2 separate regions of the Homo sapiens genome follow, and region 1 is linked to region 2. Evidence: fine-mapped expression QTL. Tissue or cell type: blood mononuclear cells. Region 2 holds a variant in brackets; the other region holds the start of a gene. All regions are shown on one strand. Distances are from middle to middle.

The links.
Region 1: it holds the start of PER3, and the variant in region 2 is fine-mapped to the expression of PER3 in blood mononuclear cells (TOPMed, PIP above 0.99). The same link has a PIP of 0.9 or more in monocytes and whole blood.

The regions. Positions count from the first base shown.
Region 1 is chr1:7,780,971-7,792,992 of GRCh38, forward strand. PER3 (period circadian regulator 3) reads left to right here and starts at 3,321. Exons shown (of 22, transcript NM_001377275.1): 1 at 3,321-3,406; 2 at 3,684-4,035; 3 at 4,471-4,616; 4 at 5,751-5,866; 5 at 7,075-7,276. The coding sequence starts at 3,908. VAMP3 (vesicle associated membrane protein 3) reads left to right here. Exons shown (of 5, transcript NM_004781.4): 5 at 1-462. RefSeq lists a silencer at 2,787-3,396.
Region 2 is chr1:7,804,014-7,816,351 of GRCh38, forward strand. PER3 (period circadian regulator 3) reads left to right here. Exons shown (of 22, transcript NM_001377275.1): 11 at 4,880-4,985; 12 at 5,880-6,008; 13 at 6,425-6,575. It overlaps LOC124903833 (a long non-coding RNA gene), which reads right to left. Exons shown (of 2, transcript XR_007065450.1): 2 at 5,124-7,591. Among named protein-coding and RNA genes, the nearest start is that of PER3, 26 kb to the left of the region's middle. RefSeq lists a silencer at 7,262-7,462. The variant T/C (reference allele first, on the strand shown) is at 5,975.

The DNA.
Region 1 (12,022 bases), 23 kb before region 2:
TCAGGTATGAAAGAAAACAGGCAAGGAGGCACTGAGGGAGAAAGACACAGACTTTATCGCTCTGTGGCTCATTGTTACTGGAATATTCTAAAACTCTTGTTCACATGCTATTATGACTTATAAAGCAGCAACAGCTGAGGCGCACCAGGACACAGCTTCCATTTCTTTAACGTCTGTTCCCTTAACATCGCTGAAATGATTTACTGTTGAAGAGATGCCTTGCGGTGTGGCCAGCTGTGAGGAGAAAGCAGCTGGCAGTGTTAGGACATTAGTCCACCTTCAGCGCAGGGTCTCTGGCCGGGTCTGACTCAGAAACCTTGGTACTCGCCCCTTGGCCACAGTGCCCAGACCCATGTAACCCACTGGCTCCTGCATTAACCCAGAAATACCTCGCTTCTATCTGTGCACTTAGCTGGGAACTTACCCACTGTAATCACCTAAATAAAGTGTTTATAAACATGATTGTGGCACCTGTGCTCCTTGTAGAGGAATAGCTGCACCTGGTCCGAGTCCTAAAAATGCCATTCCTTGCTGCTCCCCATACCTGTCCCTTAGAAGCCCCGAAACTGTCTCCCCCTTTTCTCACCAGCCCCTCTCTAGGTACTCTACCCTTTTGGTACCCAGCATTTCCGCATACCCCAGTGAACAGAAGAAAACCGCTCCCCTTGTGAAAAGTGCTTTTTAGTATAGGCGATGAGGAGGAAACTGGCTTTTACACAATTACCAAAATTCAGGATGTGGCTTTGGAGTTCCCTAAATAGATGGTCTTTCTAAAGTGATGTGCAGAGCCGACCCCGTCTGTGGTAGACTAGATGGCTGCTGGCATGGACCCTGGGATAGATGAGTGGATAGGTGAGGGACATCCCCAGACACATGGCTCTGTTCCTGTAGATCCTTTTTTCCTCATGAATGTATTTCCATTCTTATCGTAGAACCCCTAGGAAACAATATAATACGGGTGGAAGAGGACTTTTGCTTATGTTTACAATAGGAAAATCCAAGTCCCTTTCCCGAATTACAGGTCCCACGATGATCTGGTCCTTTCTAGTTTTCTGACTTCATGTCACACGACTCTCCAGCTCTCTCTTCTCCAAGCAAGGTACTCCACCAAAGTATAGCTGTTGACATCGGAGAGACTTGTGCCCATGAGACTTTCAACATCAGGGTGTGGCTTGAAGGCCAGAGTTAGCTATGAATGAAAACAGGCAAGGAAGCCCTGAGGGAGAAATGGACCTGATAAAGTTTGTTTCGGTTTCTCATCAGCAAACTGACTTCTTTCCAAAGGTCTTCTGCAGGTACTTTCAGCTCTGCCGGGTCTACTTCCTCACCCGCGGCAGGCGCCTCTCATCTCAGGTTGAAATCCGCCTTCCCCACTCGCGGCAGGCGCCTCTCATCTCAGGTTGAAATCCGCCTTCCCAGAGGCCTGCCCTGCTGATCTGACTAAGCAGGCTCTGGCCTCCCCACTCCACCTTTCTCCCAGTTACTCTTCCTTCCAGTAGTTTGTTTTCTACACATCGCTTTAGGCTTTATGAACTTGTTTATGGGGTTGTTTGTATGGCTTTCTCAATAAAACGTCAACTCCCTGGGTGGCAGGGACTTTGGGCCACTGTTCTATCCGCTGGGATTCCAAGCGTCCCTACCCAGATCTGCACGCAATAAATGCTTGCTGAACGAATGCAGTTTGACAAAACCCAGCTTCGGAGGAGAGCAAGCCAACCTAGAGTATCGCTTGGAAGATATAAGGTGGTTTATTCAATACCTAACATGAACACTCACCTCACTTTTCCCCTCTTCCTTTACATACAATTTCATCCATCCAACAAATACTGAATATTTTTTCTGTACCAGGCAGCGAAGAGGGGCGGCACTCTGCACTGTACCTTTCATTTCTAACATGTTGAGATACTAAACTGAGCTTTCAGACATTTTTTTTAAAGGGCTCTACAACTTCTTTTCTGAAACAGAGTGTCTTTTACGTTTGTCTTCCTCCAGTTGCCAAATGAATCTAATTTTAGGAAGTGCAGGGAAGTGTTTTAAGTTCCACCGTCAAAATTCTGTTTCTGGGCCGGTGCAGTGGCTCACGCCAGTAATCCCAACATTTTGGGAGACCGAGGCCAGCAGATCACTGGGGCTTAGGAGTTTGAGAACAGCCTGGCTAACACAGACCATCTTTACCAAAAACACAAAAATTAGCCAGGTGTGGTGGCTGCACCTGTAGTTCCAGCTACTCGGGAGGCTGAAGCAGGAAACTGGCTTGAGCCCAGAAGACGGAGGTTGCAGTGAGCCAAAATCGCGCCACTGCACTCCATCCAGCCTGGACAACAGAGCAAAACCCTGTCTCAAAAAATAAAAAATCTGTTTCTAAAAATCGGGTGGGCTTTTTACCAGGGCTGCTTTATGGCCCGGTTCCTCCAAGTCCACCCCACTCACCGAAAGAGTTAGCGGAGGATGGGGGCGGTTGGGGTGGGCTCGGTAGGTCACGGGCGGTGAAAACCGTGGGAACCCAGAAAGACGGCCAAAGCACGATGAGGACCGCTGCCGGCAGCCCGCCCCACCCTGGGCTCCTCCCCACACCCGCTCGGGCAGCCGGGAGCCACCTACAAACTCCAGGACTCGACCCCAGAGCGCTGGCCTGAGCCGCCCCTGCTCGCCCCCAGTCCCCGCCTCTCCCTCCCTCTAATGCCCCCGCCCTCGACACCGTCGCCCCCCCGCCCCTGCCTCTCGCTCCCCACGTCTCTCGGCACCCCCGCTCCCATCCGCCCCCCCGTCCCCGCCTCTCGCCCCCATCCGTCCCCATTTCCAGCCTCCCCCTGACCCCGACTCAAGCCCCCCGACTCCGCCTCTCGCCCCTCTCTGCCCCCGCCTCTCACTCCCCTCTCCTTCCCCGCCCGCCTCTCACGTGGAGGTTGGGCCGGACCCGCCCCGCCCCACAGAGCCCGGGTCCCGCCCCCACGTGGCTGGCAGCTTCCTGGCCCTATCATTTCTGCGCTGGCTTCAGCGGCTCCGCCCCGGCGCCGTGCCAGGGGGCCGGACACTCCAGTCGCGCGGCACAGGCCTGAGGCCGCTGAGGGCCACCCCGTCCCCTGCCCGCCCGCCGGCCTGCTGGGATTGGCCGAGCGCCGGCCTCCGCCCGAGCCCGCGCGTTATGTAACGCGCCCCGGGGGCCCCGCCCCCTCGCCCTGGCTTATATAACCCGGGCGCACCGGCTCGCGCCCCGCCCCAGGGCCAATGGAGGCCTGCGGAGTCGGCCCCGACGACCAATCGCACGGCCCGGGGGCGGGACCGGTCACGCGGCGGCAGGGGGCGCGGCGCCGGCTGCTGACCGGCACGCGGCGAGCCTCGAGACTGCGCGAGGGCGGCCCCGGGGGCGAGCGGCTGTGCGCGGGGCCAAGGGCGGGGGCAGCAGGTGAGTGCGCGGCCGGGCGGGAGTTCTGGGCGGCCGGGCGGGAGTTCTGGGCACTCGCGCGCGGCAGAGGAGCCCCGCGAGCCCTGCCCTCGGTACTGGGGGCCCCCGGAGCGTGGCGCTTCCGAGCCACCCGCCTCCCCGGGCCCCATCCCTCGGCGCGCGGGAAAGTTGGGGCAGGGGTGAGGACCGCGCGGTCGGGGCGCCCCAGCCAGCCGGGCCGCTGGCGTCGGACTGTCTGTTCCATTTGTCCCTTGTCACCCTTGTCTCCTCCCCCTAGGCCGGAGTCCTGAAAGTCGAGCGAGCTCCGGGTTTTGAAAATGTTGGAGGGAAAAGCTCCTCGGAGATGAGCGTGACCCCCTGGCTCGTGGTGGCCGCCTGTTCTCACTAACGCCATGGCGGGGACCGGAGTGAGAAACCGGTGTCTGTCACTGACTGCAAAGTGAGCGAGAAGCAGGCTGCGGGCCGTCCCAGCACGACGTGGAGCCCCGCGGAGACCTCGAGATGCCCCGCGGGGAAGCTCCTGGCCCCGGGAGACGGGGGGCTAAGGACGAGGCCCTGGGCGAAGAATCGGGGGAGCGGTGGAGCCCCGAGTTCCATCTGCAGAGGAAATTGGCGGACAGCAGCCACAGGTGACGCGCTGGCTTCAGGCCGAGGGCCCCATGCGTTCGTTGTCCTTCCCTGGAGCAGGGAAAGGGGGACCTAAATCTTTTTATTCTTTTGTTTTCAAGCCCAGGGGAAAGTGTAAAGGGGAGACTCGGGCAATGTAGGATGAAGTGATCCGTGACACTGAAGAAAATTACCGAAGAGTATCAGGAGGGAAAAGTGGTTACAAAAGTTAGCTGAGTTGGGGCTCAAGTGGATTAAGGGAAAGTAAGTGGAGAATGTTTGTCATTCACCAGTTGCTTTGCCTCGAGTTCCCCACCTAGAGGAAGAGGGGTCACCACCCTGTGGACTGATGCCGGTAGAGCACTTAGAAACTTACCTGGCTTGCAGTTTGTGTTCCCTAAGCCGCAAGATGCTGTTGTCTTCAGAGGATGAAGTTGTAATTTTTTTTTATCTTCCAGTGAACAGCAAGATCGAAACAGAGTTTCTGAAGAACTTATCATGGTTGTCCAAGAAATGAAAAAATACTTCCCCTCGGAGAGACGCAATAAACCAAGCACTCTAGATGCCCTCAACTATGCTCTCCGCTGTGTCCACAGCGTTCAAGGTAAACAAGCCGGAGAGAAATTTCATCCTACGAATGCACCAGGACTCATACAAGCAGCCAGAGGAGTGGTCAGTGGGGTCTCAGTCAGACAAATAATTTGAGCTTTTTCTGGTGCTTTGTGGAAGATGAGCAAATCTACACCGATTCCATTCGTGTCTTAATTGTTCACATGTGAAAGACCAGGAAAACTTTATCTGTATAATAGTGTATAATACCTATGCAATGTTTTGCTCATGTGTTGCAAGAGAGTAGAGTTTAGCATAAGCACATTTTGAAGGCTGACCTTTTAAAGAAATATTGTCTTCTATGGAAGTTATGGGAAAAAAATGCATTCCACGAAATAGTTACCTTTACATGCCGTACACATACTTTCAAAATGCAGTAATGAGGCTGGGCGCGGTGCCTCACGCCTGTAATCCCAGCACTTTGGGAGGCCGAGGCGGGCAGATCACGAGGTCAGGAGATCGAGACCATCCTGGCTAATACGGTGAAACCCCGTCTCTACTAAAAATACAAAAAATTAGCCGGGTGTGGTGGCGGGCGCCTGTAGTCCAGCTATTCGGGAGGCTGAGACAGGAGAACGGCGTGAACCCGGGAGGCGGAGCTTGCAGTGAGCCGAGATCACGCCACTGCACTCCCGCCTGGGTGACAGAGCGAGACTCTGTCTCTAAAAAATAATAATGATAAAAATGCAGTAATGATATATCAGGAATTTACCAAACTAAAAATGAACCATTGTAAACACTTTTTCTCTCTGACATTTCCAGGGATTTCATTAAAGCCATATTCTCTTTAGCACAAACCTCAGTGCTTCATATATGATATGTTCCTGAATGACAGAGTACTGTTTCTGCTCCCCCCGCAAAAAAATTGTGTATGCATCTGAAATTTTTAGTTAGTACCTTAAATGTATCTTGCTTCCTGTGATCCAGAACATGCAGAATTCATAAAATCAAATCTTAAGTTTGCACAACTATCAGTATTTTAGGTAAAAGCAGAAAATGATCTGTTTTTGAGAAAAATGCACTGAGGTGTTCTCATCCGAAAAAAATAATCCAGCTTGATAGTGATGAAATGGTTTCCTAAAGATACTGTTGTCACTGGACTACCTGTTTATCTCCCTGTGTTTCTTAGCAAACAGTGAGTTTTTCCAGATTCTCAGTCAGAATGGAGCACCTCAGGCAGATGTGAGCATGTACAGTCTTGAGGAGCTGGCCACTATCGCTTCAGAACACACTTCCAAAAACACAGTAAGAATTCATGCATTTTGCCATATCAACCTGGGTGACTTTTCCTAAGGGCCTGCTCTAGATGTAGGCTTTTAAGAAGGATAACAACGTTTCAGCAACCACAATTTGAGAGAAGCAAAGGAGGAACTGCTAAAGAGGCATGGTGTAGCTTCTCCGCCCTTGCCAGAGAAAACATCTAAAAGCAGAAGCAGCCCGTTCTGTGTGCTGTGCAGCTCAGTGACTTTGGTTATGAGGTGCTTCTAGCTCCTTAGCATTCCCAAGCTCTCTTGAATTAAGAGAAAACAAAAATTACACTGCAGAGTAATTTCCTGCACCTTATTCTAATCTCCGAATTGTTAATTTCTATTTATATCATTCTTAGTTCCAATACCTACTACTTCAAGTTGTAACAACTGGATGTTATAGAACAGGTGAGTTGAGATGCTGTCATTTTTCCTAAAATTTTGGAAGAGACCTTTAGTATATCTTTTTTAATCTCTCTTCTTGTTTGACAGAGTAATCTTCATGTTTGGTTGATACGGTGGAGATTACTTATTTTAAGTAACATAATTGTTACTTAAAGATTTTGTAATAGTGGAACGTGCGCAATCCCTAGTATTATAACAGTGCTTATTTTATGGACTGGTGTGTACATAGTACTGTAGGAGGTGCTATGGAGATTTTTAAAAATAGCTTAAGAAAATATTTGTCTTTTAAGATATTTAAAATAAAGCTAGAGAGGAAAGTATGCCAATGCTAGCAAACACAAACTGCTGATTATAAATAAGTTTCATTTATGTGTAATGGAAAAAATTAGAGCAGTGATGCTTATGTAATGAGGTTTGTCAAGGACAGCTTCTTGAAGAAGGTGAATCTTCAGTGTGTCTTAAAGCATAGAATCTGCGTTGATGACGAGAACACCGTCCACCCAGGTGTATGGCACAGTTTGCAGAGAAGTTATGTGCCATACGTATTTTAGTCTGCATAGAATAAGCTAGTATATTTTTTGGCATAGAAATTGAACCTTCAGTAGGTGAAGTGCAGGTCTTAGGAGAAGATTTAAGAAGCATGTTGGAGAAAATTATTTGAGGAGTTTTGTTGCATTTGTAGGTTGTGCCTGTGTATTTTAAGATACTGGTCATGTTAGAGATCCAGAAGAAATTTACCTTTCAGGGAATATTGCTAGTGAGTATCTCAATATTTGCATTTATTTTAAATGTTTTTCATAGGATACCTTTGTGGCAGTATTTTCATTTCTGTCTGGAAGGTTAGTGCACATTTCTGAACAGGCTGCTTTGATCCTGAATCGTAAGAAAGATGTCCTGGCGTCTTCTCACTTTGTTGACCTGCTTGCACCTCAAGACATGAGGGTATTCTACGCGCACACTGCCAGAGCTCAGCTTCCTTTCTGGAACAACTGGACCCAAAGAGGTAACAGGACCAATGTTCAGATGTCTATCTTTCCTCATCAAGATCAGTTTCATTCTTACAGGAATAGTACAGAAATTAACATATTATTTAGAACATGCACACTATCTGGTTTTTCTTATTCCTGTTATAGAAAGTCACGTGATGAAAACAGCATTTTAAAAGCTTCTGATAACATACTCAATACGTTTGTTTCCATTTTGTCACATCTGTTTCACAGATGATATGTCATAAATATTATTTCATTACCAGCGTATTGTATAGTGGTTTAGTTGCTATGAAGGCTCTGTTTCCTTTAAGTTAAAATTAAATGTTTTTCCTCCTTCATGATTTCCTTGTATGAGAAATTTTACTTTGGAGATAAAATTTGGATCATTAGGCTGGGCAAGGTGGCTCACGCCTGTAATCCCAGCACTTTGGGAGGTTGAGGCAGGTGGATCACCTGAGGTCAGGAGTTCCAGACCAGCCTGGCCAACATGGTAAAACCCCATCTGTACTAAAAGTACAAAAATTAGTCAGGCATGGTAGTGCATGCCTGTAATCCCAGCTACTCAGGAGGTTGAGGCACGAGAAGCACTTGAACCCGGGAGACAGAGGTTGCAGTGAGCCAAGATCACACCATTGCACTCCAGCCTGGGCGACAAGCGTGAAACTGTTTCTGGGGAAAAAAAAAAAAAAAAATTCAGATCATTAGCTCTCTTACAGTTTTTCTTGCCCCTGAAACTTATGAGTCTTATTACTTTGTTTTCCTTCTGGAATGCTTTTCTTTCATAATTCAAAGATGCCTATTGCAGTTTTCTTTGTGACATTCAGTCCTGTGTGATCTTAATTTATTTCTTTTTAGTCATCCTTCATTATTTTATATTCTTTGTGAAGTGTCTCTTAAAGAGCTTTAAAATATATATATATATATATCAGCGTTCTCTTTGATTCCAAGCCCTTCTCTCTAATTAAAAAAAAAATTCATTGTAGTAAAAAACACATACAGTTTACTATCTGATATAGTTTGGCTGTGTCCCCACCCAAATCTCATGTTGAATTGTAACTCCCACAATTCCCATGTGTCGTGGGAGGAACCCAGTGGGAGATAATTGCATCATGAGGGCGTCTTTCCCATGCTGTTCTCGTGATAGTGGATAAGTCTCATGAGATCTGATTGCTTTAAAAATGGGAGTTTCTCTGCACAAGCTCTCTCTCTTTGCCTGCTGCCGTCCATGTAAGATGTAACTTGCCCCTCCTTGCCTTCTGCCGTGATTGTGAGGCTTCCTCAGCCACGTGGAACTGTAAGTCCGTTAAACCTCTTTCTTTTGTAAATTGCCCAATCTTGGGTCTGTCTTTATCAGCAGCATGCAAACGGACCTAATACACCATCTTAATCATTTTTAGGCATTCACTCCATTGCTGTGAAGGATGTTTACATTGTTGTGAAACAGATCTCCATAACTTTTTCATCTTTATATCTGAAATTCTATCTACTATTTCTAATTTTTTACCCAGTAGTTAATTTAATGAAGGGTAGCTTTGCGTGTTTCTTCTTCCAATTATAGATTGCCCCATCTTTTAAAAATATTTTTACATAAGCTCTAGAAAACATGCATGTCATCCCTGCTTGCTTCTAGCTCATCTCTTTTCCCATCTTTCAAAAATACTGATTTTATTTCTCATCCCCTTTCCTAAATACACATTTTCAACCTTTGTCTGTATTTGTTTCTCTGCTTTTGTTAGCTGTTCATTCCGTAAACATTTATTTAATAATCACGTGGGTCAAGAACTAGTCCGGATACAGATACAGCTGTGAACAGGACATACACAATATTGTCTGCCAGGTCTTTCCCATTTTTTCCCCAGGTATTTTTCCTTCAGCACTGCCTGTGGCTTTTCAGCCTTTTCATTTTTGCTGATTACTGATTACTGCGATATTTCCCTTCTGTATTAGTCCATTCTTACGCTGCTATAAAGAACTATCTGAGACTGGGTAATTAATAAAGGAAAGAAGTTTAATTGACTCACAGTTCCACATGACTGGGGAGGCCTCAGGAAACTTACAATCATGGCAGAAGGGGAAGCAAACATGTCTTTCTACACATGATGGCAGGAAGGAGAAGAATGGGAGCCGAGTGAAGGAGGAAGCCCTTTATAAAGCCATCAGATCTCTTGAGAACTTACTATCATGAGAACAGCATGGGGGAAACTGCCCCCATGATTCAATTACCTCCCTCCGGGTTCCTCCCACCACACATGGGGATTATGGGAACTATAATTCAAGATGAGATTTGGGTGGGGATACAGCCAAACCATATCATTCTGCTCTTAAGCCCTCCCAAATCTCACGTCCTCACATTTCAAAATGCAATCATGCTTTTCCAACAGTCCCCCAAAGTCTTAGCTCATTCCAGCATTAGACCAAAAGTCCAAGTCCAAAGTCTCATATGTGACAAAGCAAGTCCCTTTCACCTATGAGCCTGTAAAATCCAAAGCAAGTTAGTTATCTCCTAGGTACAATAGACGTACAAGCATTGGGTAAATACACCCATTTCAAATGGGAGAAATTGGCCAAAACAAAGGGGCTACAGGCCCCTTGCAAGTCTGAAATCCACTGAAGCAATAATTAAATATTAAAGCTCCAAAATAATCTCCTTTGACTCCATGTCTCACATCCAGGTCATGCTGGTGCAAGAGGTGGGCTCCTACAGCCTTGGGCAGCTCTGCCCTTGTGGCTTTGCAGGGTACAGCCTCCCTTATGGCTGGTTTCATGGGCTGGCATTGAGTGTCTGTGGCTTTTCTGGGCTCACAGTGCAAGCTTTTGGTGGATCTACCATTCTTAGGTCTGGAGGATGGTGGCCCTCTTCTCACAGCTCCACTAGGCAGTGCCCCAGTGAAGACTGTGTGGGCTCCGAACCCAAATTTCCCTTACACATCTCTCTTAGCAGAGGTTCTCTATGAGGGCTCCGCCCCTGTAGCAAACTTCTGCCTGGACATCCAGGCATTTCCGTACATCCTCTGAAATCTAGGCAGAGGTTTCCAAACCTCAGTTCTTGTCTTCTGCACACCTGCAGGACCAACACCATATGGAAGCTGCCAAGGAATAGGGCTTGCACCCTCTGAAGCTATGGCCTGAGCTGTACCTTGGTCCCTTTTAGCCATGGCTGGAGGTGAAGCAGCTGGAATGGAGGGCATCATGTCCCAAGGCTGCACAGAGCAGTGGGGGCCTGGACAGGCCCAGAAAACCATTTTTTCTCTCGTAGGCCTCAGCCTGTGATGGGAGGGGTTGCTGTGAAGTCTCTGACATGCCCTGAAGACATTTTCCCCATTGTCTTGGTGATTAACATTTGGCTTCTTGTTACTTCTGCAAATTTCTGTAGCAGGCTTGAATTTCTCCCCAGAAAATGGGTTTTTCTTTTCCATTGCATCTTCAGGCTACAAATTTTCCAAGTTGTTATGCTCTGCTTCCTCTTTAATGCTTTGCTGTTTAGAAATTTCTTCCGTCAGATACCTAAATCATCTCTCTCAAGTTCAAAGTTCCACAGATCTCTAGGCCAGGAGCAAAAGTTGCCAGTCTCTTTGCATAGCAGAAGTGTCCTTTACTCCAGTCCCAACAAGTTCCTCATCTCTCTCTGAGACCACCTCAGCCTGCACTTCATTGTCCATATCACTATCAGCATTTTGGTCAAAGCCATTCAACAAGTCTCTAGGAAGTTCCAGACTTTCCCACATTTTCTTGTCTTCTTCTAAGCCCTCCAAACTGTTCCAGTGTCTGCCTGTTACCCAGTTCCAAAGTCACTTCCACATTTTTGGGTATCTATGGCAGCACCCCACTCTTTGCAGTACAAGTTTACTGTATTAGTCCATTCTCATGCTGCTAATAAAGACATACCCAAGACTGGGTAATTTCTAAAGGAAAGAGTTTTAATTGACTCAGTTCAGCATGGCTGGGGAGGCCTCAGGAAACTTAACAATCATGGCAGACGGGGACATGTCCTTCACGTGGCAACAGCAAGGAGAAGCGCCAAGCAAAAGGGGGAAAAGCCTCTTATAAAACCATGAGCTCTCATGAGAACTCACTATCACGAGAACGGGATGACGGCAACCACCCCCATGATTCAGTTACCTCCCACCAGGTCCCTCCCTTGACATGTGGGGATTATGGGAACTACAATTCAAGATGAGATTTGGGTGGGGACACAGCCAAACCATATCACCTTTTATGTAAAATCTTAATATGCCCTGAAATAATTCTTTTGGATCTCAAAATTCACTTATGCCATAAGGCACGATATAATTCTAGTTTACTCTTTATATTGTACTTTTGCCTTATGAATCTCAAGGATTGATACTGAGAGCAGTTGGTTAATGCCACCCCCTTTATAGGCTATGCCTGCGTTACCCCCTTCGATTCCTTACTTTGAGCACATAGAACATCAAGAGGACTTAGGAAGCAATCCACTCAGCTGTTGTCAACCTCTGGTCCTGTATTAGAATATGTTTCTATTTAACATGTCTTGTACAAACCTCTTAGAAGGATCTGACCATTACTTCTTCAGAGTACGCTTTTAGAAACAAGCATCACATATTTACAGCCTAGGAATGGAAATGCATTGTGGGTGCACGTCTGCTGTCTTAGATCACGTAGTCTAGCTTTCAGTGGTCCAGGACTTCTAGTGAGTGCAGTTGGAGTTCATGTGTCTGGTGTGATGAATAAATGGTATAAGCAAACTGACCTCACAGTAGAGGCCGTTTTCTGTAGAAGAT
Region 2 (12,338 bases):
AAAGAAGTCATAATATCAGCCTTAAAGTAGCTTAAATATCCATCATTAAGTAAACTCTGGAATATTTGCTTGATGTATTATTATATTGGTCAATGAAAATTTTTGCAGAGATCACATAACATGGAAAAATATTTGATTTTTAAATATAAAAATCAGCATACAAAATTATTTATACCTATGATTATAATTATGTTTAAAACGAACATACTATGAAATAAGGAAAAGAGAATTGAAAGGAAATAAAATATGAATTTTGGTTAAGTGTAGGTACTAGGACCTACAAGTGTTTCTTTCTTTCTTTTTTTTTTTTTTTAAAGATCTCTTTAGTGAGCATGTAAAACTTTTTATATCAGCCTTCCGCCATCAAATTCCACTTGTTTGTGTCTTTTTTTTTTTTTTTCTTTGAGACAGGTTCTCCCTCTGTTGCCCAGGCTGGAGTGCAGTGATGCGATCACAGCTCAGTGCAGCCTTAACCTCCCCTGGCTCAGGTGATCCTCCCACTTCAGCCTCCCAAGTAGCTGGGCCCACAGGTGCCTGCCAACACATTCAGCCCTTTCTTGTATTTTTTGTAGAGATGGGGTTTTGCCATGTTGCCCAGGCTGGTCTCAAACTCCTGTACTCAAGCATCCTCCTGCCTCAGCCTCCCAGAGTGCTGGAATTTTGAAGGTACGAGCCACTGCGCCCGGACTGTGTCCATTTTTTAATACTTCTTTTCCTGCCAGCACAGCTGACACCAGCTTGTTTGCTTGCTGTTGCCCATCCACGTAACAGCATCATGTGGAATGGAACGAGACCAGCCCGGCCCACAACTTCTTGTAGGCTACAGTACCCCTACCCCTAGGCCCTTGAATCTTTAGTCCTTTTTTTTTTTTTGAGACAGGATCTCAGTCTGTCACCCAGGCTGGAGTACAGTGGCCTGATCGCGGCTCACTGCAACTTCCGCCTCCTGGGTTCAAACGTTTCTCCTGCCTCAGCCTCTCCAGTAGCTGGGATTACAGGTGCACGCCACCACACCCAGCTCATTTTTGTATTTTTAATAGAGACAGGTTTCACCATGTTGGCCAGGCTGGTCTCGAACTCCTGACCTCAAATGATCCACCCACCTTGGCCTCCCAAAGTGCTGGGCTTACAGGTGTGAGCCATCACGCCCAACCCTGTGGTCCATTTTTAATTGAACTCTAGGCCTTTTGACCTGGCTCTAGGTTTCCCTCTGATGTCTATCTTTTTTAAGCATGGAAATTTTACTTGACTCCAGTATCATGCTGAGATCGAGAAGTTATGTTTTTTGGTATCTTGTTATACAGCATTGTCTACATGAACATGAACCTGAGAACAGTAGATCTACCAGTAAGACGTATTTGATCACCTGTTAATATTACAGTAGAGATGATGCCGAGCCATGGTGAGAAGAGGTCTCAAGGTTGCTCTTACCTCTTTCTACTCCAGGGTTTGGCCCCTCCGCAGAGCACGTGTAGAACTTAATGGAAGAAATGGGCTCCTGGCCGCCCTAACTCATGAGACTGATTTGTGCTAGAAAACGAATTTGATTATTAAGAAATACAGCTGCCAAGTAATTACCATTGGTATTGCTCAGAAAGGACTTTGTCCCTTCTCCCCACCCCATACCCCCCAAGTACGGAAACCTATTGGGAAATGAACATGAAATCCGATGGTTGCTTGGCATGAACGTAGGAAACTGCAGCCAGTAAGATGCCTTCATGAGGCTTCCATCTGGGGCTCGTTGATGGTCTGTGTTCCCCAGCCCCAGTCAGGGTTAAAGATACGGCCTGGATTTCTGAAGCTCTCTTTTCAGTTCTTTGATGAAATATATGTGAAATTATGCAACATATAATGAATATTCAGAATGTTTTCAGTATTTTAAAAAATTACACTGGTATTTACATCTTAACAACAAAGATTATGTGAGGGAAAGGATTTAAGGTCTAGTAGGTATTAATCTTGCTCATAAAATATTAATTATTCATTATATTTATAAAGTATAAAGCTCTGTGTAAGACAGTGTGCTGGGCCTTGAGAATGTAATGGTAATCAAAACATTCTCTTTACCATCAGGAAACCCACACTGTAATGGGAGAGACAGTAAATAAAAATGGCACTGTCATATATAACTAGAGTTTGGTAAGTGTGACAGTTGAAATGGGAAGGGGGCTGCAAGACTGTTTAGCAAGGGACCCTGCCTGTATCTCTCTCAGTCCTTCCCAGCAGCACTGCAGGCAAGCAGGTCAGGTGTCCTCAGCTCTCATTTTACAGGTAAAATCCATACTCAGTAAACTAGAGTAGCCTTCCCAGGGATCACTTCGGGAGGAGTGAAAGTGGAGACTGCAGCCAAGTTTTCTCTCTTACTCCTACTTCACTTCACATACACAGCAAAGCAATAAATACTTCATGGCATTTTTGTTGCTGTTTCATGAAGGCTGTCTCCTTATTGCCTGCAGATTAATCAGTTCTGCATTACATAGTTACTGACTTAAAATACATTTTAGTGTCTTACGCTTATAATCCCAGCACTTTGGGAGGCTGAGGCAGGAGGATCACTTGAGGCCAGGAGTTCAAGACTGGCCTGGGCAAGATAGTGAGACCCCTTCTCTACAAAAAATTTAAAAACAAAAATTAGTTGGGCATGGTGGTACGTGCCTGTAGTCCCAGCTACTTAGGAGGCTGAGGCAAGAGGGTTGCTTGAGTCCAGGTGTTCAAGGCAGTAGTGAGCCAGAATTGCACCACTGCACTCCAGGCTGGGCAGCAGAGCAAGACCCTGTCTCTTAAAAAAAAAAAAAAAAAATATATATATATATATATATATATTACATACACACACACACATACATACACAATTTAGTTTTGTAGAAATTTTCACAACTAGGAATATGTAAATCTCATAAAGCAATCTGTTCTATTTCCATTTCACTCAAAAAACAAATTCCAAATACCTCTGAAAGGTTTTCAAGCTCACAATGTGTTTATATTAGGAACCAGGTGTACTTTTATTCCCAGATCAATCAACCATGTATTTGTTCCTTTAGCAAATATGTAGTGGGTGCCTGCTATGGACCAGACACTGTTCTAGGTACTGAAGATCCAGGAGTGAACAAAGTAGACAAAATACCTCACCCCGTGGCACTTACCTGGCAGTGGGATATAGGGAGAGACAGTTACATAAAACGTATAGTGTGTCAAGTTGTGAAATAAGGTTATATATTCAGGTACTGCTTGCCACAGACATATGGTGTACCTGACGCCATGCAGATAGATATTGATCTAGATACAGTCTAGATGCTAAAGTAGAGAAAGGCGATTGGTGCAGCTGTTCCACTGTGATGGAAATGTGCAGGGTGAGTGAATAGTCCCTAGACGTGGAGATATTCCTGACTGCTTTTACGATACTGTCAGCATCCTATGATTGTCTTGATAATTTCTGCCTTTGGGAAACTGTTTCAGTTTTTAGGTAACTGAGCTGCATGTATCAGTTGAGAAACGGCAGGCTGGCATAATGGAAAAAGGACAGCCCAGGCTTGGGGGTCAGACGTAGGCGGATTCAAATCCTAACTGCTGCTTCTCGGTTATGTGAACTTGGGCCAGTTCCTCAGAGTACCTCATCCCCTGACTTTGTGTATCGGGGATAATTCCTACTTTCTGGGTTGTTGTGAGAACTCCGTGAGCTGATGCAGCTGATTCAGTATGCCTCACGAATGGGACTTGCTTTACCAAGGTACCCACAGGCAGTACAGTGTGGTGGCACACAGGGTGGACTCTGGAGCCCAGACTCTGGTCCCTTCGTGAACACCTGCTTCCCCCTTACCTGCCAGGCCACCTGGAAAAGGTATTTAATCAGGTGAAGGAGAAAATACGTGTAAAGCACTTGGAATAATAAGGATTTTCAAAATGTCAGGTATTCTTCTATGTTATAAAAACTAGTACAGGCTGGGTGCAGTGGCACACTCCTGTAATGCCAGCACTTTGGGAGGCCGAAGCGGGTGGATCATTTGAGGTCAGGAGTTCAAGACCAGCCTGGCCAACATGGCGAAACCCCGTCTCTACTAAAAATACAAAAATTAGCCAGGCGTGGTGGCGTGCACCTGTAATCCCAGCTACTCGGGAGGCTGAGGCAGGAGGATCGCCTGAACCTGGGTGGCAAAGATTGCAGTGAACCAAGATTATGCTACTGCACTCCAGCCTGGGTGACAGAGCAAGACTCTGTCTCAAAAAAAAAAAAAAAAAAAAAAAAAAACTAGTATAGTACAGTGCCTGTCACATAGAAGGTCCCAAGTAAACATCAGTTCCTTCCCTTCTTTGTAATCCTCTCTGTTGGCATGTGTGCCATTCACTGTATTCAGGTCATAGATTGAAGATGCTCTAAAATTTGAGTATAAATAAGACCGAAGGTATTGTAATAGCTACATTTTCACCACTAGGGTGGGTTGCAGAACTGTCTTAATTAGATAGCTTAAGTGTTAGGTGCAATAAACATTAAATGTTGTTTGGAAAACTTGGGGTCTTTAAAATTCTTAGAGTAAGTTACAGTTACTCAGTTACTGTCAAATTTTGAAACCAGTTATTTGCTGAAGATATTTTAGTAGCTAAGGAGGTTACTTGTCCCTGATTTCAGATTTGTACATATATAGCACTGAAACCATTACAGAAAGATGAGTGCTTTAGAGAAACTTAAGGGGCCTGTTAATGTCTCATTTGTTTCTTATTATTTTCTGTACCTTCATGAATAGAATTCTAGCCTCATATTTTTTCTTTGGAGTCAAAGAATTGTTTTGTAAAAGCATAGATCTATTCTTGGAATAGTCTATTAAAAATCACTTTCGACTTCATTTAAATTGTTTGACTCAGTCTCTCACTGGGCATTTTCTAGGAGCCCACTAAATGAGGATGTTTTTGCTACCAAAATTAAAAAGATGAACGATAATGACAAAGACATAACAGAATTACAAGAACAAATTTACAAACTTCTCTTACAGGTAAGGTGAGATTGTTAAAAATGCAAAGTTCCCTGAATTGTGTTTTGTTTTAATGCTCAGTAAATTCACTTCACAAAAATAAACTGTAAAGGGAGACAAATCTTTGCCCTCTACATTCCAGAAATTTTTGTCTTTCTCTTTTCGTTTTTAAATTAAATTTTATTCTTTGTTCCTTATTCTGTGTTACACAGAATATTTTTGTAAGAACCCATTGTAAGACAGCAAACCACGTGACTGAGAGAATTATTACATTCCAAAGGCACCAGCGTGCTCAGCCTTTGGGTTTTGGCTTCAGGATTTTTAAAATAATTTCAGTTTTAAAGATGGGAGGAGAGGGATGGTAGGTCTCAGTTTCTCTTAACTATTGTAAGGTAAAAGTGGGAAAATGTATGTGTTGAAATAACTAAAGGTGTTTTCTACAAGAGATTCAATGAATAAGTGGTAAATAGAACTAATGGTGTCGTGTAGAGTAACTGTCCTCGGTGGTTTTCAGAATGTCTCCCATAAAATCTCTAGGGTGCATGAAATACCTGCCACGTTCTTGGAAAAAGTATAATATATAGTTAGTTTGTTCTCTGTATTCTAAACTGGGCATAAAGAACTAGAGTTTATTTTCCTGTTTTAAAAAATTAATTATACTATGGCTTTTTAACAATATGTTGTCCTGGAAATACCTACCTAGACTAGAACATAAGACCTTGCTCTTGAAAATTGCCGAAATGACAGAGGAGTGCCTTTCGTGTCAGCATCAGCATTAAAAGTACCAACCTGCACACACCTAATTTAGTATTTCAGGAATTGTCATCTTAATTTTTACATGATTCTAGATGAGCTCTGCGGTGGCTGCATTTGAACAGCCAGCAATTCTGGACTTGTTCCTCTTTGTCCTTCCAGCCAGTTCACGTGAGCGTGTCCAGCGGCTACGGGAGCCTGGGGAGCAGCGGGTCGCAGGAGCAGCTTGTCAGCATCGCCTCCTCCAGTGAGGCCAG[T/C]GGGCACCGTGTGGAGGAGACGAAGGCGGAGCAGGTGCATGGGCTTATGTCACATTCTTATACAGGCATCGTGTTTTCTGTACTACCTCGGTTCTGAATGTGGTGACATCTTAGTATATATTCCTGACTTGAAGACCTCAACTGATAACAGATATTTTCATCCATTTTGGTTTGGAAAAAAAAGTCTGTAAAAAGAAAATATCACCTTTGGAAAGTGATATTTGAATTAATTGTATGCGTTCTAAAAATTAGCATATTGTGAACAGATTTATTTAGAATTTGTTGGTACCAGTATACTGTGGCATGGTGCAGGAAACTGGATTAAAGTGATTACTGTGCTTCAGTCATTATATCTTCAAAGAAACAGAAGCTAAGTGTATTTTGTTTATGTATCTTTTAGTGGACATTTTTATAATTTTTGAAACATATTTTATCATTCCTTTCCCTAAGATGACCTTGCAGCAGGTCTATGCCAGTGTGAACAAAATTAAAAATCTGGGTCAGCAGCTCTACATTGAGTCAATGACCAAATCATCATTCAAGCCAGTGACGGGGACACGCACAGAACCGAATGGTGGTGGTGAGTCAGCGAATGGTGGTGGTGAGTCAGCCGGCAGCCCCAAGGATCTCCTTCCATGGGCTGTCACTCTCTGCATAGACGTCATGTATGTGATTCGTGAGCATAAAGTCATGACCCTGTGTTGCTGCTTTTCATATTTCTTGATTTGCCTAGATAGCAATAGTAATAGCAATAGTAGTAATAATAATGGCAGCAACAAATACTGTTCTGAAAGGAAATGGTATTAGAATGTATTTGTAACAGTTGCAGTTCACTTTTACTGAAGAATTAACTTCTCTGTAAATACCAACGAATTATAGATTTCCCTCCCTACATGGGCATCTCTTTAAACAAAAAGAGTGGATTTTAGAATGCATTTTAAATAATAAAGTATATTAAAATGAAAATCCCTTTCTGTCATTTCAAACAGAAAATCTTTGTGACCTAAATTCAGTGAAAAACTTTGGCTCTTTTCTTGACATGTATTTACTTTTCTCAAATACAAGGTAAGGAGCACTCAAAAAGAGCTGGATCAGTAGTAAAACTGGCATCATATTGAAAAGTTAACCTAGTTGCATTGTATGGCATAGGGGATGTTCAATAATATAGAAATCAAATTAGATTGACATTTAAATTTAGCTAACTTTCCCTTCATTTTTCTTCCTGAATGTTAATATAACTTGGAAGTTGTGATGGATCTTGGTCACTAAATGTTATTAACCTCTATCATTGTCAAATGTAGACGTTTTACACAGTGGGGTGAAATTTTTGAGGTCAATAATGATAACAGCTATATGCTTCAGGACTTGACATGATTTACACCACAGAAAGTCAAACTGCTGCTCCCAGAGGTGACATCACTGGGAACTTTCTTAGTTTGTACTGCTGTAACAAAATACCTGTGACTAGATAATGGATAAAGAACAGAAACCTATTTCTTACAGTTTTGGAGGCGAGGAAGTCCAAGATCAGGGCACCGGCAGGTTCAGTGTCTAGCGAGGGCCAGGTCTGTGCTTCTCAGAGAACATCACTTCCTTGAAGGGGACAAACGCTGTGTCCTCACATGGCACAAGGGACAGAAAGGCAGAAAGAGACTTAGCTAGTTCCTTCTAGCCCTTTTGAAAGGTTGCAAATCCCATTCATGAGAACAGAGTCCTCATGACTTTGTCACTTCCTAAAGGCCGTGGCTGTTCACTGTCACATTGAGTTTTAAGTTGCAACATAGGAGTCATGGGGGACACACACATTCAAACCATAGTAGAGCCCATTGGACTCCCCAGACAGAGCAAGTCCTGTTCTTTCATTTTTTTTCTTTTCACCTCGATAGGAAGTTGAGCATTCCATTGGTTTCTTCTGCTGTTACATGTAAGGGCACAAGATAGGAATCACAGCTGCTTTTTTTATTGTCCCTTGAAACCCCTACATTTCTCCTCTGCAAAAGAATTTATCTTAAATACAATTTTTACTATATAGATTATTATTCCATGTCCTAGCAGAGAGAATTCTTTTAGGAGGTTTTTAAAGCTAAAGTGTCTAAATGTTTTTCTCATTGTCTGGTCCTGCTAGTCCTGCTCACAGCTGCCTGGGCCTAGGATCTCATGGTAGTATCACAGTTTCACACACTGACCTCTGTCCTCATCTCAGTATAGCTTCCCTTCTCACTTGCTGCATTATTCAGTTTCTTATCATCGACCATGGATCTTGTAATGCCATCGGTACTATTTTTTTTTGAAGGCTATATCTTTAAGTAGATGGCAATATTCCATCATTCACTTTTTATAAAATTGAAGCTGCAGGTGGCCGGGTGCAGTGGCTCATGCCTGTAATCCCAGCACTTTGGGAGCCCGAGGTGGGCAGATCACGAGGTCAGGAGATCGAGACCATCCTGGCTAACATGGTGAAACCCCGTCTCTACTAAAAATACAAAAATTAGCCGGGCGTGGTGGTGGGCGCCTCTAGTCCCAGCTACCTGGGAGGCTGAGGCAGGAGAATGGCGTGAATCCGGGAGGTGGAGCTTGCAGTGAGCCGAGATCGCGCCACTGCACTCCAGCCTGGGCAACAGAGCAAGACTCCGTCTCAAAAAAAAAAAAAAAAAAAAAAAAATTGAAGCTGCAGGTAACTCCGTGTGCTTATGCAGCTACTTTAGAAACTGAAATGTTCCCACTCCTTAGATAGATTCTTACATTTGGCTCTAATAGCACACACAGGATGTGACTTTGGAGAAGAAGGAAGATCTCTTGCCATTTGGCACAGCTTTGGAGAACCAATGTTTCTGGGAGATCTTGATTTTATTAACATTTGGAGACCTACAAGTTTAAAGAGCTACAGAAACCTTTATACTCTTTGCTTGAGAGACATGAGGATGCAACTTAAAAATGTTATAATTTAAATGTTAGAAATTGACTAGAGATGTATACCAATGAAAAGGAAAATGCTTAGTTAAGCATGATCATTGTTTACATGTGTTATAGGAACTTAAGTTTAAAATTTATATTTATCTTTCTTACAACCTAAGAGCAAATAATGCTTTAAAGAGAGATTTTAAAAGTTAGTATGAGTTAATATGGGAGGGCAAGGAATAACAGGGATATGTAAAGCCCCTTCAGCTACATGTACAGAGGCCAACTACAAGAGACATCATTGAGGAAATCTGGGAAAAGTAAGTGTCCATGTCTAGGGTGATGGAATGTCTGAGTGAGAGAAGAGGACCCTTAAGTTGAACAGGTTCAGAGTGAGATTGCTTCCAGTTTCTGCTCAGGGATGTAGAGAGCCAGAAACAGCATCACCCCAGACTTAACAACAGAAAAATCTAGATGAAAGGCAAGTTCAAGACCTTTCTTGACTTCAGAGTGCTGAGGTTACAGAGCAGCCAGCAGGCCTAAAATCTAAGGAGAGAAACATATTTGCAGGGAGGAGCAAGATGCAGCACTGGATTCCAGTGCACCGACAGCCTGAGTCAAGTAACTTGCAAAAGACAGACCCTCTCGAAGGCACAATGCCAAGGAAAGACCAAAAGCTGAAAGTGGAGCAGATACTGAGAAAAAACAAAAAAATTACCCACCAAACCAGCCACCAGCTGAGGCAAGAAGTATAACTAGAGGAATTTGAAAGCTGTTGTACATGCTGTAGAACCATTACAATACTCAAACCTGGCCTAAAAAATAGATTAATTCAGAGGTCTAAAAGAAGGAAAGGCATGCCCAGTCTCTGTGTCCTACACAAGTTACACAGTTCTCAACAAGAAATTATGTAGCATATGATGGGCAAGAAGGGAAAAAAGAAACCTCCCAAGAGACAAAACCATCATCAGAACAAGACTCAGAGAGGACACAGAAGTTGGAACTATCTGACAGGGAAAGTAAAATAATTATGAATGATGTATTAAAGGCTAGTGGACAAAGTGGGCACCATGCAGGACCGGGTGGGTAATCACAGCGTAGAGATGGGCATGAAAGAAACCCTCAAATGGAAATGTAACATCTGTAACATCAATGCCAGAGATGAGGAACGCATTTGATAGCACTCAACACAGCCTGGAAAAGAATCATTATTCAAGCTGAAACAGAGAAAGAAGAATGAAGCAAACAGAATAGAGCATTCTAAGAATTTGGAGACAGCCTCAAACTGTCCAACATAGGTGTAATTGGAATCTCAGAAGAAATAGTTGAAGAAATAACAGTCAGGAATTTTCTACTGAGCCAAAGACCATCAAGTAAGTTAAATACAGAACAAAAACAAAACAAAACACTTGGGCATATCATATTCAAACTGATGGAAAAAAGAAAATCTTGAAAGCAGAGAAAAAAGACAGATTACATACAGAGAAACAAAGACAAGAATTGTAACAGACATTTCTTCAGAAACCATGCACACTAAAAAGACAATAGAGTAGCATCCTCAACCAGAAAAACTGTCAGCACAGAATTCTATACCTAGTGAAAACGATATGTAAGAAAATAAAGGTGATATAAAGATTTTCTCAAAAATCATGGGAATTTATTTCCAGCACACTTACTCCACAAGAAATGCTAAAGGAATTTCTTAGAAAGAGTATGATACCAGACCAAAAACTTGGATCTACACAAAGAAGTGAAAAGCACTGGAAAGGGAATAAATGAAGATAAAATAAATTCTATTTTTTAATTTTTAAAATTAATCATAAAGATAATGGACTAAAGCAAAACCAGCAAACTGGATTTATAGCATATATAAAAGTAATCTTTGTGACAACAATACTACAGAGGGTGGGAGGAAGTTATTGGGAATATACTATTAGTTCCTTATACTGTATTTGAAACAGTATTTTATTATTTGGAGGTAGACACTGAGTACTCAAGAATATATATTGGAAACTTTAGGAAAACAATTCGAAAATATTTTTTAAGTATAAATAATAAGTTAATAGAGGAGGTAAAATGGAATTTAAGACACTTAACCCAAAATGGTGGTCAGAAACCAAATGGACTGAAGCCGGGAGTGGTGTTATGTGCCAGCTACTAAGAACACTGAGGTGAGAGGATCACTTGAGCCCAGGAGTTCGAGTCCAGCCTGGGCAACGTAGCCATACTTCATCTCTAAAAATACACTTAAATAGCAAATGGAACAAACAGAAAACAGCTAGTGGCTGGCATATTTTAATCCAGCAACATCAGCAATCACTAATGTACTGAATATATGAATCATATTCAATCCAGTTATTCATATTCAATATTAATAATCTCCGTACACTAATTTACAAGACTGAAATCGTCAAATTGGATGAAAAGATCCAGCTACATACTATCTACAAGAACCCATTGTGAAAATAAACATAGGTTAAAAGCAAAAGAGTAGAAAAGATATACCATGCTAACACAGAAGAAAGCGGGAAGCTGTATTATTACACAAAGTAAACTTCAGAACAAGGAATGTTAGTAGAGTTAGAAAGAGAGACTGTGTAACAGATAAAGGAGTTGATTCCTTAGGAACATAGAACAGTCTTACATGTTTATGTATCTAATATCAGAGCTGTTTATTCTCTAGCCATAATGGATTAAACTAGAAATCAGTAACAGAGGTATCCAGAAAATCCTCAAATGTTCAGAAATTAAATAACTTCATACTTACAAATAATCCACAGGTCAGAGAGGAAGTTTCAAGGGAAATAAAAACATTTTGGGCCGGGCGCAGTGGCTCACGCCTGTAATCCCAGCACTTTAGGGGGCCGAGGTGGGCAGATCACAAGATAAGGAGATCGAGACCATCCTGGCTAACACGGTGAAACTCTGTCTCGACTAAAAATACAAAAAAAAAAAAAATTAGCCAGGCATAGTGGCACACACCTGCAGTCCCAGCTACTCAGGAGGCTGAGGCAGGAGAATTGCGTGAACCCAGGAGGTGGAACTTGCAGTGAGCCAAGATCCCACCACTGCACTCCAGCCTGGGCGACAGAGCGGACTCCGTCTCAAAAAAAAAAAAAAAAAAAAAAAAAATTGAATTGAACAAAATGAAAAGAGAACATAAAATATGTGGGATATACCTAAAACACTGCTTAAAGGGAAATTTACAGCACTGAGTGTTTATATGGAAAAAAGAAGAATGGTCTCGACTCAGTAATCTAAGCTTCCTCCTTAAAAATAAGAGAAAAAAGAACAAATTGTTTCACAAGTAAGCAATAAGAAGGAAATAATAAAGACCAGATATCAATGGAATTGAAGAGAAACTAAGTTAAATCAAAGGGTAATAAAATTAATAAGTCTTTAGCCATACTGAACAAAAGAAAAGAAAGGAAGGACAGGTTGGACTTTATCAAAATTTAAAACTTCT